Linked DNA regions of Homo sapiens. The protein of the gene in region 1 interacts with the protein of each later gene in a pairwise test. Each region holds a gene or a part of one and is shown on either strand. Other genes may lie near its edges.

The links.
Region 2: the proteins of PSG3 (region 1) and SKIL interact in a two-hybrid assay, tested with the Homo sapiens proteins (one large-scale study listed by BioGRID and IntAct).

Annotation. Positions count from the first base shown.
Region 1 is NC_000019.10:42,723,303-42,727,124, forward strand, and holds part of PSG3 (pregnancy-specific beta-1-glycoprotein 3 precursor), read right to left. Parts: intron 724-3,822; coding exon 680-723; 3' UTR 640-679; intron 1-639.
Region 2 is NC_000003.12:170,378,067-170,381,888, reverse strand, and holds part of SKIL (ski-like protein), read right to left. Parts: intron 646-3,822; coding exon 548-645; intron 1-547. UniProt on the Homo sapiens protein: May have regulatory role in cell division or differentiation in response to extracellular signals.

The DNA.
Region 1 (3,822 bases):
ATTTCACTCTGTTTTCAGACATAGCATTGGAACTAAGAATTTTATATCTATATGGGTGAAGGGACAGGGGTGTGTAGGAAGACAGTTCTAATTAGGATGGAGGAATTATACTAGGAAGTAGCGGTAAAGGAAGTGAGAAGGCTTAGTAAATAGAAGAAATGTGAACTTATCAAAGTGGCTAGAGTAGACCCCTGGAGATTCTTGATTAAGTGAATTAACTAGATTTTAGAAAGGTAATGAGGCAGTCATATGCAAGGAAGATTTCAAAGTCTGGAGACAAGAAGTCAAGCAATACTTTGAGAAGTGGTTGAGCTTTATGGGAATGGAGAGAATTACACTATTGAGAGATGTTAAAAATAATGAAGAGGGTTTCACCATGTGAAATTGTGTTTTTCATTTGAATCTGAGAAACAAATGAGCAGAGAGAGAGGCTGGAGATAATTATGTCTAAAAGACAGTGGGGTACAGGGAGCATAAAGGCCAGGGAGAAAGGGAACTGCAGGAATTAGTGCTGAGAAGCAGGAGTTAGTGGAGGAAGGAGGAGATCCAGTCCCAGATACAGGCAAATAAGTCTTTTCCCTCTCCCAAGCATGGCAGTTAGCCCTGCAGGAACCAGGATAAGAGGAAAGGTCATCATACCTGCCAGTCTTCCTGAAATACAGAAATGACATCACGGCTGCTATAATGGATTAAGGCCAGGAAGATGTCCTGTTCCTGAAGGAGCTGTCATGGAAAAAAAAGAAAAGAAGGAATGAAGATGATGTTATTTTACATGGGGGAGCCTCAGGAACAAGCATGTAACATGAGGTACTCTATAATTGTTTCTTCAAGGACTACGTTATTTCTGTTGGAAAATTGATAGGAGATGATTATATTCTTGCAGTTTTTTTTTCCCTCTCACCCTGTTTCTCAGTTGGTGATCAGTCCTCTGTCAATTCTCTACTGTGCTCAGATATTTGGAAGGCTTTCAGATGTGAGAAAGGCTGATTGCTATTTTCTATGTCATTAGAACTTGCCACCTTTGCACCTTTTCATGGTTGCATCTTTTTCTCAGTGTCTCTGTTGTGGCAGTCATGAATGAGACCCTGCCAGGTCTCCATGGCAGAGACTTGATTGACAGAAGGCCCAGGTCAGTGCATTTCAAATTCACCACCTCCTTTGCACAGAAAGCTTCTTTCCTACAGGCTCCCAGCAAGGGCGTGAAAGCAAGTCTAGTTCTCTGAGGCTCTCTTTAACTCTAATGGGTGACTGGTTGGAGGATTCCCCATCAGCCTTGCAAAAACTCTTATAATTGAATTGGTACCTAAAACTTCTTTCTCTTTCTTTTTCACAGGAATCAGCTCTGCATAGTGGTCTGTGGGTTCTCCCGTACTACCTTCATGCCTGCCCCACATTCCCTCACAGGTGTCTTCCCTGATAAGTTATCTTGTATGTCTAATCCCATCTTGGATGCATCTCAGTCAGTAAAAACTAACATACCAGGCTTGATTCTTTGCACTTAGCTTTTTTTCTTTCTCTCCCACAAGTAGTCAGTAACCATGTCCTAGTGTTTTATGTGTTACCTCTTTTTCCATATATATATATATGGAAAAAGGAAGGTACTGTTGAGGGGCACTTCCTATGTGCCAGGCCCTGTGCTAAATACTTTCCCTGTATCTCATTTAATCCACACAATAACCCTGTGAGGTAGACATTATTTCCATTTTGCCGATGAAAAGACAGAAGCTTAGAGTGGTGTAAAACTTTCCTGGTGTCATATGGCTAGTGACAGGTGGATCTGAGATTTGATTCTAGGACTATTTGACCTCTAGGCTAATGATGATGGTAGTCATATAGCAGCTGACATTGGTTCCACTGTGTGTGGCATCTCGTTTTATTGACTGCATTAAACCTTTAAAAGAAAGGTATGAAGAAAGCACTCTTATTGCAGTTTTCAGGTGAGGTATCAGAGGTTCAGAGAAATTGAGTCTTGTGCAAGAAATTTATAACTGTAAACTCTTACATTAAAAAAGAAGAAAGATCTCAGGTCAACAACCTACTTTAATACTTCAGGATATGAAAGAAGAACAAACTAAACCCAAGCACAGTGAATGAGGGAAAAATAAGGATTAGAGTGGATATAAATAAAATGGAGAATGGAAAAAGAATAGAGGAAATTAATGAAACCAAAAGTTGATTCTTCAAAATAAAATCAACAAAATTGACAACCATTAACTAGATTGACTAAGAAAAAAAGAGAAAAGTTTAAAATTCCTAAAATCAGAAATGAAAATGGACTCTGAGCATGGTGGGTCATGTTTTAATCCTAGCACTTTGGGAAGTCACAGCAGAAGGATTTCTTGAGACCAGGTGTTTGGACCAGCATAGGTAACCTGGGGAGACCCTGTCTCTACAAAAAAATAAAAAAGCCAATTAGCTGCGCATGGTGACATGCACCTGTAGTCCTAGCATCTTGGGAGGCTGAAGAAGGAGAATTACTTGAGCCCAGGAGGTTGAGGCTGCAGTGAGCCATAATCACACCACTGTATTCCATCCTGGGCTGGCCTACAGAGTGAGAGCCTGTCTCTCTCTCTTCAACAACAACAACCAAAAAAAAAAAAAAAAAAAGAAAAAAGAAAAATGAAGCGATTACTACCAATTCTAATAAACTAATGATTATGAAAGTACTATAAATAATTGTATGCCAATAAATTGGATAACCTAGATGAAGTAGACAAACCCCTAGAAACACACAAAAATATGAATGGAACTATAATCAGTAATAAGATTGAATCAATAAAACATTTGATGAAATTCAATATTTTTTCATAATAAAAACTTTCTAAGAAGGGAAGGAAACCACCTCAACGTAAAGGCAATATGTGAAAAACCCAATGCTAACATCATACTCAACGGAGAAAGACTGAAAGCTTTCCCTGTATGAGCAGGAACAAGACAAGGGTGCCTGCTTTTGACACTTTTATTCAACATAGTATTGAAAGGTCTAGTCAGAAAAATTAGGCAAGAATTTAAAAAAAGACGTTAAAATTGGAAGGAAGGAGTAAAATTATTTCTGTTTACAGATAACTTGAACTTATATGTAGAAAATCCTAAAGATGGAACAAACCTATTAGAATTAATAAATAAATTCAGTAATGTTGCACAATACAAAATCAACATTCAAACATCAGTTGTATTTCAATACACTAACCATGAACAATCTGAAGGGAAATTAAGAAAAAAAATTTCAATTTATATTAACATCAAAAAGAATAAAATATTTAGGAATGAGTTTAACCAAAGAGGTAAAATGATTATACCTGAAATCTACAAAATATGGCTGAAAGAAATGAAAGATGACATCAATAAATTGAAAGACATTTTGTTTTCATGAATTGGAAGACTCAATATTGTTAGGAGGACAGTGCTACCTGACGTGAGCTGCAGATTCAATAAAATTCCTATCAGAATCTCAGTGACATTTTTGCAGTAAAAAAAAATCTGTCCTAAAATTTATATTGCATCTCATGACTCTAAATAGACACACAGCTTTGAAGAGGAAGAATGAAGCTGGAGGACTCACACTTCCTGATTTCAGCATTTACTACAAAGCCCCAGTAATCAATACACTGTGGTACTGGCATAAAGGAGGACATAGAAATTAATGAAATATAATAACCCAGAAAGAAATGCTTGCATATATGGCCAAATGATTTTCATCGAGTGTGCCAAGATCGTTCAATGGGGAAGGGACCGTTTTCTCACCAAATGATATTGGGAAAGGTGGATATCCAAGGGCAAGAACAGTGGAACCTTTACCTAACACCATGTACAAAAAGTAAC
Region 2 (3,822 bases), on another chromosome or scaffold:
AGGATGGTCTCGATCTCCTGACCTCATGATCCACCCACCTCGGCCTCCCAAAGTGCTGGGATTACAGGCATGAGCCACCGCGCCCAGCCTAATTTTGAATTTTCAAAGATAATCTATGATTAACAAGAAAGCCTGAAAATAAAGAAATAAATTCGTGGTCAGGCACAGTGGCTCACACCTGTAATCCCAGCACTTTGGGAGGCTGAGGCAGGCAGATCACTTGAGGTCAGGAGTTCGAGACCAGCCTGGCCAACACTGTGAAACCCCATCTATACTAAAACTAAAAAAATTAGGAGGGCGTGGTGGTGTGAGCCTGTAGTCCCCGCTACTCGGGAGGCTGAGGCAGGAGAATCGCTTGAACCCGTGAGGCGGAGGTTGCAATGAGACGAGATCGCGCCACTGCACTCCAGCCTGGGTAACAGAGCAAGACTCTGCCACCAAAAAAAATAAATAAATAATTAAATTCCCATGTCCTAGAATAGTGCATGGCATATAGTTGTTGAATGAAGAAATGAATGAACAAACGAACAAATAAATACCAACTCACCTGGGGTGTAAAAATGAATGTGTCTGAGAAACATGGTCACCTTCCTGCTTTATAACAGGATACCATGACTGTAATTCCATTCCTGATGGTGCATCTGTCTGCAGAAAAACATGGAAGGGAAACATTTATTGAAGTAAAACTGTGAAGGTTAATTTTATGTGTCAACCTGACTGGGCCACTGGGTAAAGACAACTAACATTATTTAAGAGTCATCATGCCACGCACAGTGGTTCACACCTGTATTCCCAGCACTTTGGGAGGCAGAGTGGGGAAGATTCCTTAAGCCGTGGAGTCAGCCTGGGCAACATAGGAAGACCCAGTCTCTTTAAAAAAAAAAAAAAAAAAATTAGCCAGTTGCAGTGGTGTACATCTGTGGTCCCAGCTACTTGGGAGACTGAGGTGGGAGAATCCCTTGAGCCCAGGAAGTTGAGGCTTGCAGTGAACCATGATTGAACCATGATTGCACCACTGCACTCTATCCTGGGCAAGAGTGAGACCCTGTCTCAAGAGTCATCTTCCAATAAGGCAGTCTTCCCTTGAAGAAGCCTGATTATCACCTGAAACTCAGAGACACCCACATGAACTATCCCATCACAAGAACAGTTTCAGTATGCATGCTAACATGGAGTACCAGAAATGACTGCATCAAATTTCATACTTACGAAATCTATTTTATTTATTTATTTTTTTTTTTTTTTTGAGATGGAGTCTCGCTCTGTCACCCAGGCTGGAGTGCAGTGGCGCGATCTTGGCTCACTGCAACCTCCACCTCCCGGGTTCAAGCGATTCTCTGCTTCAGTATCCTGAGTAGCTGGGATTACAGGCACCCACCACCACACCCAGCTAATTTTTTGTATTCTTAGTAGAGATTGGGTTTTGCCATGTTGGCCAGGCTGATCTCAAACTCCTGACCTCAGGTGATCCCTGCTCCTCAGCCTCCCAAAGTGCAGGGATTACAGGCATGAGCCACTGAGCCTGGCCAGAAATCCATTTTAAATAATAGAACTCTATAAAGGTATAGCACTGGAAAATTGATTCTTATTCCTGTACTACAATCGGCTAGACTATACCCTATCCCTACAGTATTTGTTAGCATATTAGCTAGATACCATTCTACAGCAATACTTTGCCAAATTAAATCCAAAACCACATAGTTTGCTAACACTTGTCATTAAACTATATTTCCTAATAAATATAAAAAGGATTTTTTAATACTTAAAGATGAGCTATAACTAAAAATAAAGAAAAATAAGGAGAAAGGTAACTGGTAACTTAATGAACATCTACGGGCTGAGAACTTTATACATCATTCTTAATTCTAACAAATATCCCCCATTAAATAGGTATCATTACCATTTTACAGATGAGAAAACAACTGACGTTCAGAAATTGAAGAGGGGCTCGGTTCAGTGGCTCACACCTGTAATTCCAGCACTGTGGGAGGCCGAGGTGGGTGGATCACCTGAGGTCAGGAGTTCGAGACCAGCATGGCCAACGTGGCAAAACCCCATCTCTATTAAAAACGCAAAACTTAACGAGGCATGGTGGTGCGCTCCTGTAATCCCAGCTACTCGGGAGGCTGAGACAGGAGAATCACTTGAACCCAGGAGATGGAGGGTGCAGTGAGCCAAGATCATGCCACTGCACTCCAGCCTGGGCAACAGAGCAAGAATCGTCTCAAAAAACAAAACAAAACAAAAAAAGAAATTGAAGAGAAAAAAAGAATAAATGATCTGTGGTTACTAACTTCTCCCTTATTTTGGTTTACTTTATTTACACTTTGTCCTCCCTTCATCCCCTACATATTTCCTATTATACGAAATTACCTTGCTTTTGTGGGAAAAGGATACTTAAAAGGGGGGGCAAGACTCACTGGTAAGGGAAAGGGGAAAGAAGGAAAGGAGAGCTGAAATGTGGCATGGTTAAGGTGACCAACAAAAATAGGAAGTTAACAGACAAACCCAGGAAACTGAGGGAGAATGCGATTAGGAACGAGTTAAACAAGGGAAAAAACAAAAAAGAGAGCTGGATATTTCTCTAAACCCTACCTTTAAGAGGTTCCATGGCCAGGCGCAGTGGCTCATGCCTGTAATCCTAGCATTTTGGGAGGCCGAGAAGGGTGGATCACCTGAGGTCAGGAGCAAGACCAGCCTGGCCAACATAGCGAAACCCAGTCTCTACTAAAAATACAAAAATTAGCTGGGCGTGGTGGTACGAGAAGGGTGGATCACCTGAGGTCAGGAGCAAGACCAGCCTGGCCAACACAGCGAAACCCAGTCTCTACTAAAAATACAAAAATTAGCTGGGCATGGTGGTACGCACTTGTAATCCCAGCTACTCGGGAGGCTGAGGCAGGAGACTCACTTGAACCCAGGAGGCGGAGGCTGCAGTAAGCCGAGATTGCACCACCGCACTCCAGCCTGGGCAACTGAGCCAGAATCCATCTCAAGATAAAAAAAATAAATAAATAAATAAATAAATAAATAAATAAAAGAAGCTCCAATTCTGGTCGGGTGCAGCAGCTCATGCCTGTAACTTTGGGAGGCTGAGGGAGGTGGATCACCTGAAGTCAGGAGTTTGAGACCAGCCTGGCCAACATGGAGAAACGCCGTTTCTACAAAAATTAGCTGGACATGGTGGTGAGTGCCTGTAATCCCACCTACTTGGGTGGCCGAGGCAGGAGAATCACTTGAATCCGGGAGGCAGAGGTTGCAGTGAGCTGAGTTCGCGCCACTGCACTCCAACCTGGGTGACAGAGCAAGACTTTGTCTCCAAAAAAAAAAAAAAAGAGAGAGAGAGAGAGTCCAATTCCCAATTCAACAAATTAGGAAAGTAGCAAAGCTGTTTTGCCTGATGTCCCAATATTCCAGTTTGGAACCAAGAAACTAAGGACTGCAAACAGATCTCTGGATGTTAAGCAGTAGTGATTAAAACAAAATCAACTCTAAACTATCCAAACTCTGGTTTGATTACTGAGATCCTACTAATGGAGGAAATCAATGAGAATGAAGAAACCTGGGAGAGATCTGACAAGTAACCCACTGCCCTCAACAAAACAGGCTGAAAACAGAAAGGAAACCGCTCTTAGAATATGTATCTTAAAATCTGATCAGTCAGGAGATGACTTAGGGCCAACTAAAGGACAAAAATAGGCAGGGCACAGTGGCTCACGCCTGTAATCCCAGCACTTTGGGAGGCCAAGGCAGGCAAATCACGAGGTCAGGAGTTCAAGGCCAGCCTGGCCAATATAGTGAAACCCTGTCTTACTAAAAATA